Homo sapiens: one gene and its partner. The protein of the gene in region 2 purifies or fractionates together with the protein of the main gene of each other region. This does not show direct contact. Each region holds a gene or a part of one and is shown on either strand. Other genes may lie near its edges. The genes, in order: PHLPP2 and DNAAF11.

Evidence for each region.
Region 1: the proteins of DNAAF11 (region 2) and PHLPP2 purify together in Homo sapiens (affinity purification with mass spectrometry; 2 studies listed by BioGRID and IntAct, with this or other methods). This does not show direct contact.

Annotation. Positions count from the first base shown.
Region 1 is NC_000016.10:71,717,872-71,721,789, forward strand, and holds part of PHLPP2 (PH domain leucine-rich repeat-containing protein phosphatase 2), read right to left. Parts: intron 1-3,918. UniProt on the Homo sapiens protein: Protein phosphatase involved in regulation of Akt and PKC signaling.
Region 2 is NC_000008.11:132,612,929-132,616,846, forward strand, and holds part of DNAAF11 (dynein axonemal assembly factor 11), read right to left. Parts: intron 2,170-3,918; coding exon 2,110-2,169; intron 249-2,109; exon of another isoform or gene 97-248; intron 1-96. UniProt on the Homo sapiens protein: Involved in dynein arm assembly, is important for expression and transporting outer dynein arm (ODA) proteins from the cytoplasm to the cilia. Acts as a crucial component in the formation and motility of spermatozoal flagella.

The DNA of each region.
Region 1 (3,918 bases), on a different chromosome or scaffold from region 2:
AAAAGTCAAGGAAGACTCCAGGAAGTTTTGTTTGTTTTGAGACACGATCTCGCTCTGTCACCCAGCCTGGACTACAGTGGCGTGATCATAGCCCACGGCAGCTTCGAACTCCTGACCTCAAGTGATCCTAAAGCCTCAGCCTTCAGAGTAGCTGGGACTACATGCACATGCCACCACACCCAGCTAATTTTTTGTATGTTTTTAAGAGATGGAGTCTTGCTATGTTGCCCAGGCTGGTCTTGAATTTCTGGACTCAAGCAATCCTCCTGCTTGGGCCTTCCAAAGTGCTGGGATTACAAGCATGAGCCACCACACCAGGCCTGATTTTTCTTCTGTGAGGATTTTTAACAGTCATTTTTAGTGCATATATATTTACCTTAGATTATAAATTCCTTAAGGAACTTTACATTATCAAAACATATATGCGGTCGGGCGCAGTGGCTCACACCTGTAATCCCAGCACTTTGGGAGGCCAAGGCAGGCGGATCACAAGGTCAGGAGTTCGAGACCAGCCTGGCCAACATAGTGAAACCCCGTCTCTACTAAAAATACAAAAACATTAGCTGGGCGTGGTGGTGCACGCCTGAAATCCCAAATACTTGGGAGGCTGAGGCAAGGAAATCACTTGAACCTGGGAGGCGGAGGCCACAGTGAGCCGAGATTGCGCCACTGCAATCCAGCCTGGGTGACAGTGCAAGACTCTATCTCAAAAAAAAAAAAAACAAAACACATGCCTGTAATCCCAGCACTTCAGGAGGCCAAGGAGGGAGGATCACTTGAGGTCAGGGGTTCAAGACCAGCCTGGGCAACATAGTGAAACCGCGTCTCAAAAAAAATTAAAATAAAATAAAGATTAAAACAACAACAACAAAATATACACGCTGTTGGTCATCATTTACCTCAAAGGATCTATCTCCTGTCTACATGATACATTCCGCCCTAAGAAGATAAACTGCTAAGTTACAACTTCAGTATATATCATTCTCTTAAACCTGACCGATGGGCACTTAAAAGGCCTGGATATTAAGCAAAGCAAAGGCTTACAGCAACAATCTAGATGGACTGTTTAGCTGTTATTAGCCACTGCTGAATTGCCTAGTGCTTCCTTCTTCTCAAGAATGTCTTGCTCCACTGCTTAACACATCAGTTAACTGCTGGAAAAACCTTCCTAGGAGCCAGGACTGCAGATGACACGGTCCTCTGAGGTGCTTTCAACTTTTAGAATCACCATTCTACTGGAATTGCTAGGTTGAGAAAATTATTTTCCCCTTACTCTTATAGAATTGTTATCACAAATTTATTTGAAAGGGAACACAATGACAATTACCTCTTACATCAAACAAGTATACAAAGAGCGTATTTTAGATTTAAAGATCTTTCTAGCCGGGCGCAGTGGCTCATGCCTGTAATCCCAGCACTTTGGGAGGCTGAGGCGGGCAGGATCACCTGAGGTCAGGAGCTCGAGACCAGCCTGGCCAACGTAGCAAAACCCCGTCTCTATTAAAAATACAGAAGAATTACCCGGGGGTGGTGGCACGCATGCCTGTAATCCCAGCTACCCTGGAGGCTGAGGCATGAGAATCGCTTGAACACAGTAGGTGGAGACTGCAGTGAGCGGAGATCACGCCACTGTACTCCAGCGTGGGCTACACAATGAGGCTATCTCTCTAAAAAGTATCTTTTTTAATTTTTTTGGCATTAATTGTTTATACATACTTTGCTCAACACCCAAAACTATTCTTGAAAAAAAAAAAAGAATCTCATGACACACACCGACATTAGTTGTAACTTCGTATCTTCTATAAGCTATGGGCCTGGGTGACACAAGGAGACTCTGTCTTTAAAAAAAAAAAAAATCTTTCTAGAAGGCAAAAGTCTTGAGGGTAAGCCATGAATTAAATACCCACTGCTTCAATTTTACACTTTTGTTTGTTTGTTTTTTTGGAGACAGCATCTCCCTCTGTTGCCCAGGCTGGAGTGCCGTGGCACGATCTCGGCTCACCGCAACCTCCACCGCCCGGGTTCAAGCGATTTTCCTGCCTCAGGCTCCTGAGTAGCTGGGATTACAGGTGCACAACACCATGCCCAGCTAATTTTTTTTTTTTTTTTTTTTTTTTGAGACGGAGTGTCGCTGTTGTCCAGGCTGCAGTGCAGTGGCACAATCTCGGCTCACTGCAGGCTCCGCCCCCCGGGGTTCATGCCATTCTCCTGCCTCAGCCTCCCGAGTAGCTGGGACTACAGGCGCCCACCACCTCGCCTGGCTAATTTTTTGTATTTTTAGTAGAGACGGGGTTTCACTGTGTTAGCCAGGATGGTCTCGATCTCCTGACCTCGTGATCCACCAGCCTCGGCCTCCCAAAGTGCTGGGATTACAGGCGTGAGCCACCGCGCCTGGCCACGCCCAGCTAATTTTTAAAAATATTTTTAGCAGAGACGGGGTTTCACTATGTTGGCCAGGCTGGTCTTGAACTCTTGGCCTCAAATGATCCACCCGCCTCGGCCTCCCAAAGTGTTGGGATTATAGTAGTTAGCCACTGTGCCCAGCCCAGTTTTATACTTTTAACTCTAAAAGTGTTCCATGAGGGCAATGATCAGTTCAAAGGTGATATACTATTACACACTCACATACAATAATAAGATATACATGGTATAAACAGGGTCTGGTAAAGTAACTCTCCATATTCAGTTAGTTCTGCAAGAATGTGAAATACGGCCGGGTGCGGTGGCTCATGCCTGTAATCCCAGCACTTTGGCAGGCTGAGGCAGGCGGATCACCTGAGGCCAGGACTTCAACACCAGCCTGACCAACATAGAGAAACCCTGTCTCTACTAAAAATACAAAATTAGCCAGGCGTAGTGGCACATGCCTGTAATCCCAGCTACACGAGAGGCTGAGGCAGGAGAATCGCTTGAACCCGGGAGGCGGTGAGCCAAGATCGTGCCATTGCACTCCAGCATGGGCAACAAGAGCGAAACTCCACCTCGGAAAAAAAAACAAAAGACGAAAAAAAAAAAAACAATGTGAAATACTCTTAGGTAGAAGATGTTTCTGCATTCAAAACTTTAAAACAATATAGACTCATATCTGGGAATACACACGTTATTAAATATTGTGAAAGCGGTGGGGAGGGATGGGATGAGATAGAGAAAGAATATGTCAGCGCTTTAAAAATGTTTTGGGGCTGGGTGCGGTGGCTCATGCCTGTAATCCCAGCACTTTGGGATGCCGAGGAGGGACAGCCTTTAAGCCCAGGAGTTGAAGGCCAGCCTAGGCAACAAGGTAAGACCTCATCTCTACTAAAAAAACAAAACAAACAAACAAAAAAAAAAACGTGCCTATGATCCCAGCTACTCAGGAAGCTAAGGCAGGAGGATCACTTGAGCCATGATCGCGCCACTGCATTCTAGCCTGGGCAAGAGAGAGGCTCTGCCTCAAAAAAATAATAACAATAATAACGTTTTGGGCTGGGTGCAGTGGCTCATGCCTGTAATTCCAGTGCTTTCGGAGCCCAAGGTTAAGAGGATCACTTGAGGCCAGGAGTTTGAGATCAACATAGCAAGACCCCATCTCTACAAAAATAAAAATAAAAATTAGCCAGGCATGTGCCTATAGTCCTAGCTACTTGAGAGGCTGAGGTACTTGAGCTCAGGAGTTTGAACCTGCAGTGAGCTATGATCACACCACTGCACTCCAGCGTGGGCTACACAATGAAGCTATGTCTCTAAAAAAAAATCTTTTTAAATTTTTTTTGGCATTAATTGTTTATACATACTTTGCTAAACACCCAAAACTGTTCTTGAAAAAAAAAAAATGAATCTCATGACACACACCGACATTAGCTGTAACTTCCTATCTTCTATAAGCTGAGTAAAAAAGTTAATCATTACTAAAAAAAAACCATAAACCCCAAATTGTAG
Region 2 (3,918 bases):
GAGGACTGAACAGGAAGCAGCCAACAGAGCTGAAAAAGAAAGGGTTATACATTCATTAAACACCAGACATAGGGCCTAAAAATGGAAAGGACTTACAAGGATGAAACAGTGATTTGTCTGAAAAACAGTAGAAACGGCAGCTTGGGAAGCTGGAGGAGCAGAGGATATGAAGCTAGCTGGAGAAGAGCTGGGATCTTTGTAAAGGCAGATAACCTGGCAGCAAGCAGGCAGAAGAATTGACAGGAATTCTGTGGAGAGGCACACAGCTGATCTGAGACAGCTTGGTGTGGAGAGGAAGGGACCACACTAAGGCTAGCCCTGGTACACAAGAGCCAAGGTGGAAACAACCCAAATGCCTACCATCTGGTGAACGGATAAACAAAATGTGGTACATCTATGCAATGGAATAGTATTTGGCCATAAAAAGGAAGGAAATTCTGACACGTGCAACAACATGGATGAGGCTTGAAGACATTATGGTAAGTGAAAGAAGCCAGACACAAAGGCCACATGTTGTATGATTCTATTAATATGAAATATCCCAAATAGGCAAATCTATAGAGACAGAAAACAGATTAGTGGTTGCCATGAAGACAGAGAATGGGCAGTGACTGCTTAAGGACCATGGGGTTTCCTTCTGGGGTGATAAACATTTTCTGGAACTAGACAATGGTAATGGTTGTACAATATTGTGAATTTATTAAATGCCATGGTGTTGTCCATTTTGAAATGGTTGAAATGGTCGATTTTAAGTTATGTGTATTTTACCACAATCAAAACAGCAAAGTTGGTTGAAGTCCTGAGGGCTGATGTTCTGGCTCCTTCGGTCCCTGTTCACTTTGACAAGACTCACTCTTGGAAAAGTTACCCCCTCTTGGGTAATAATCCCTCCAACCTCCCAGGGTTACTGAGAGATTAAATAAAATGGGGCACATCAAAAGCCATTAAAAAGAGAAAGGCATTTATTATAATTCATGCATGTAAACATTCATCCATTCATTCATGCATGTCAATGTCATACTCCCATCATCAGTATTTGTTCATTCATTCATTCATTCATTCTTGTGTTTATTGAGCACCTAACAGGTGCCAGGTATTGTTTTAGGTGTGGAGATGTAGAGAGGAAAGAACAAACAAAACAAGCTTCCTGCTCTGACCACAAACTTTTAAGAATACAAGTAAATTTACACTTTGTCAGCAGGAAGTCAAAAAGTAGAAAGAGTGGAAGGAAGTGCTGGGCAGGGGTAGGTACTGCTTTATGTCAGATGGTGGGGCAGAGAGGCCCCTCTAATGAGGTGACATCTGAGCAGAGGCCTGAAGGACACGAGGCAGCAAGCCACAAGGACACCGAGGGTGATACAGGCAGAGGGAAGCACAGGCAAGCAGCCTCTGAGATGGTGCCAGGGGACACTGAGGTCATCAGAAGGATGTATCGGCACAGTGAACCAGGGCCTAAAATCTTCAGGGAATGAGGCAGAGTGACCTGCTGCCTTTAGATGCTTCCACAAAGAAGAGAAGAAGGGGATACAGGCTGAAGGTTTGAGTGTCAAAGCCATGGAGCTTTAGGGAGGAGAAAAGGACAATAGTTTGGGTGTGGTGATGAGGGCAGGCAGGAGGTCTGTGCCACTCCTACCCATGGGTGAGAAAACAGGCAGGATGTGAGAGGGCAGCAGGGAAGAAGGGTCCACTGGTGACAGGGGCTGCTAGGTGTTCCCCCAGGCCTCTGAGATGGGACTGAGGGAGGGGAGCCGATCACCTGATACCTACTACTATAGGAAGGCATTTTAGACAAAAACAGAGGACTATGCCAGCAAAGACAGAGTGGGGTCCTTGTAGTATCAGCATCAGAAAACAGCACAGGTCTGAGAATTATTTAAACTCTGCCTTAGATATTCCTGAGTTCATATCCATGAAATTGTGGCTTTATTTACCTTTCCTTTCATTTTCATGCTTTTAAAAATTATAGTAACTTCTCTGTCTTAACAAATAAGCTTCATTTAACTATAGGTCTAAGTCAATTCCATTTCAATTTTTTCAAACTAAAAAATTACTACTGAGAATGAAAACAGACAGAAATGTCATAAATAAATACGTAGAAAATGTCTTTACCTATAGACAGCAAGGTCCAGGATGATCTGCTTTTCGTTATCTTTCAAAGAGAAGTCAATTCTAAGAATAACACATTTGGTGGGAAAAAAGAGATGTCTTTAGGATACTGTATAGAAAACCCCATCATAAATTCATAAGCAGATTAGATAATAATTCTATAATAATATCCAAAGACAACTTATTTTAGTGGTTGAACAATCAAATATCAACGGTAATTTTAACATTTCAGCAAAACCTACAACATATTAATAAATTATTTGTGTTTACAGTGTTTAAATGTGAGAATCTTAAGGTAAATTACACACAAAAAATTAGCTTTAGTGCAGAGATAGAGACATCTGGTGGCTAAAGTTTTCTTTTCCATCTCATATGAGTTTGCCAGAAGCAAACTAAAACATTGGAATTATTTATGGAGAACTAAAGGTTGCTTTTGCCTCCCCTTTATCCTGCATTCTATTCCTTAAGTTTTAGAGTCCTGTCTTCCTTCTTTTTTCTTGCTATCTTTTTTCTTCTCCTTTCATCGCTGACCTTTCCATTGCCCTGAAAAAGGCTGAGACACTGCTCATTATCTATTACCTCTGTTTTATAGATGAAGAAACAGAGGTTCAAAGAGGTTGGCATAGCTGAATTATAATAAATGCCTTTACACTTTCTCTGCACGAGCCTGGCTAGGCAGGATTTCAAAGCTCCACCATCTTTCAACTGTACCCCGAGGTTGAGTCCTAGGTCTAGCTTCCACACTGAACAACATACTATCAGAATTGCCTGGTCAATTTTCTTTTGAACATTTCAGTTACTGTATTACTCTATAAAACATACAACTCAACAATATTAAAGAACATAAGCTAAACTGTTTAGGAAAATGTGAAGTTAGCGATAGATTTGGCTGTTCGCCCCATTTCTGCTTGTGGCAGGCACTGTCTCATTGCTTTCAATAGTCAGGCCTGTGGGACTTCTTCAGTGTCTCAAATGACCCATGCATTTGTAGAACCTCATCTCAGGAGCCTTTTTATATGCTCCTGCTCTGCCTCGATTGCTTATTACTTGTAAAGTAATTTCAGAGAATTTTCCTATGGCAGAGATTGCTATTTAGTTGCTATCTGCTTCCCCTTTATTCCTAGTGACAGGAACCATGGTTTTAACTAGGGGCATGGCTATGTACAATAAAGGTTGCATTCTCTGGCCTCCCTTGCAGGTGGGTGAGGTCATGTGAGGGACAGTCGTTGTATGGCACTTTCTAAGAATGTCCCTTAAGAAAAGGAGCGTGTATCCTTTCTTCCCTTTTTTCTTCTTTATTTAGCTGAGTAGAACAGAATGTAGGAGGCCAACAGATAAACCATGGAGACTGCTTAATAAGCAATTGCAACTGTCCAAGCAAGAGTTAGTGTCCACTAGTGGTGGTGGTGGGGTCAGTGAGATGTGGCTGGATTCTGATAATATCGAAGGAAGAGTTCATAGGACGCACTGATAAAATGAGGGAGAGAAGAATTAAGGGAGAATCCAAGGTTTCTGGTCTTAGCCAAGGGGTGAATGTGTGTTACTGAGATGGAGAACACAGGGACACAAGCACACGATGCTGGAGAGTGTTAGTGAGGCTGGAAATCAGGGGTTCTCTTTTAGTCGTCATAAGTGTGCAATGACTCTCTTATATCCACCCAGTGATGTCAAACAGCTAATTGTTAGAAACAAATTTTCAGTGCCACAAAGTGAAACCAGCACTCAGGCAAAAGTTTTCTCAGCAAGGCAATATACTTCTATAGAAGGGCACTTCCTGCATGCAAGGCAGAGGCAAGGGAGAGTGAGCAAAAC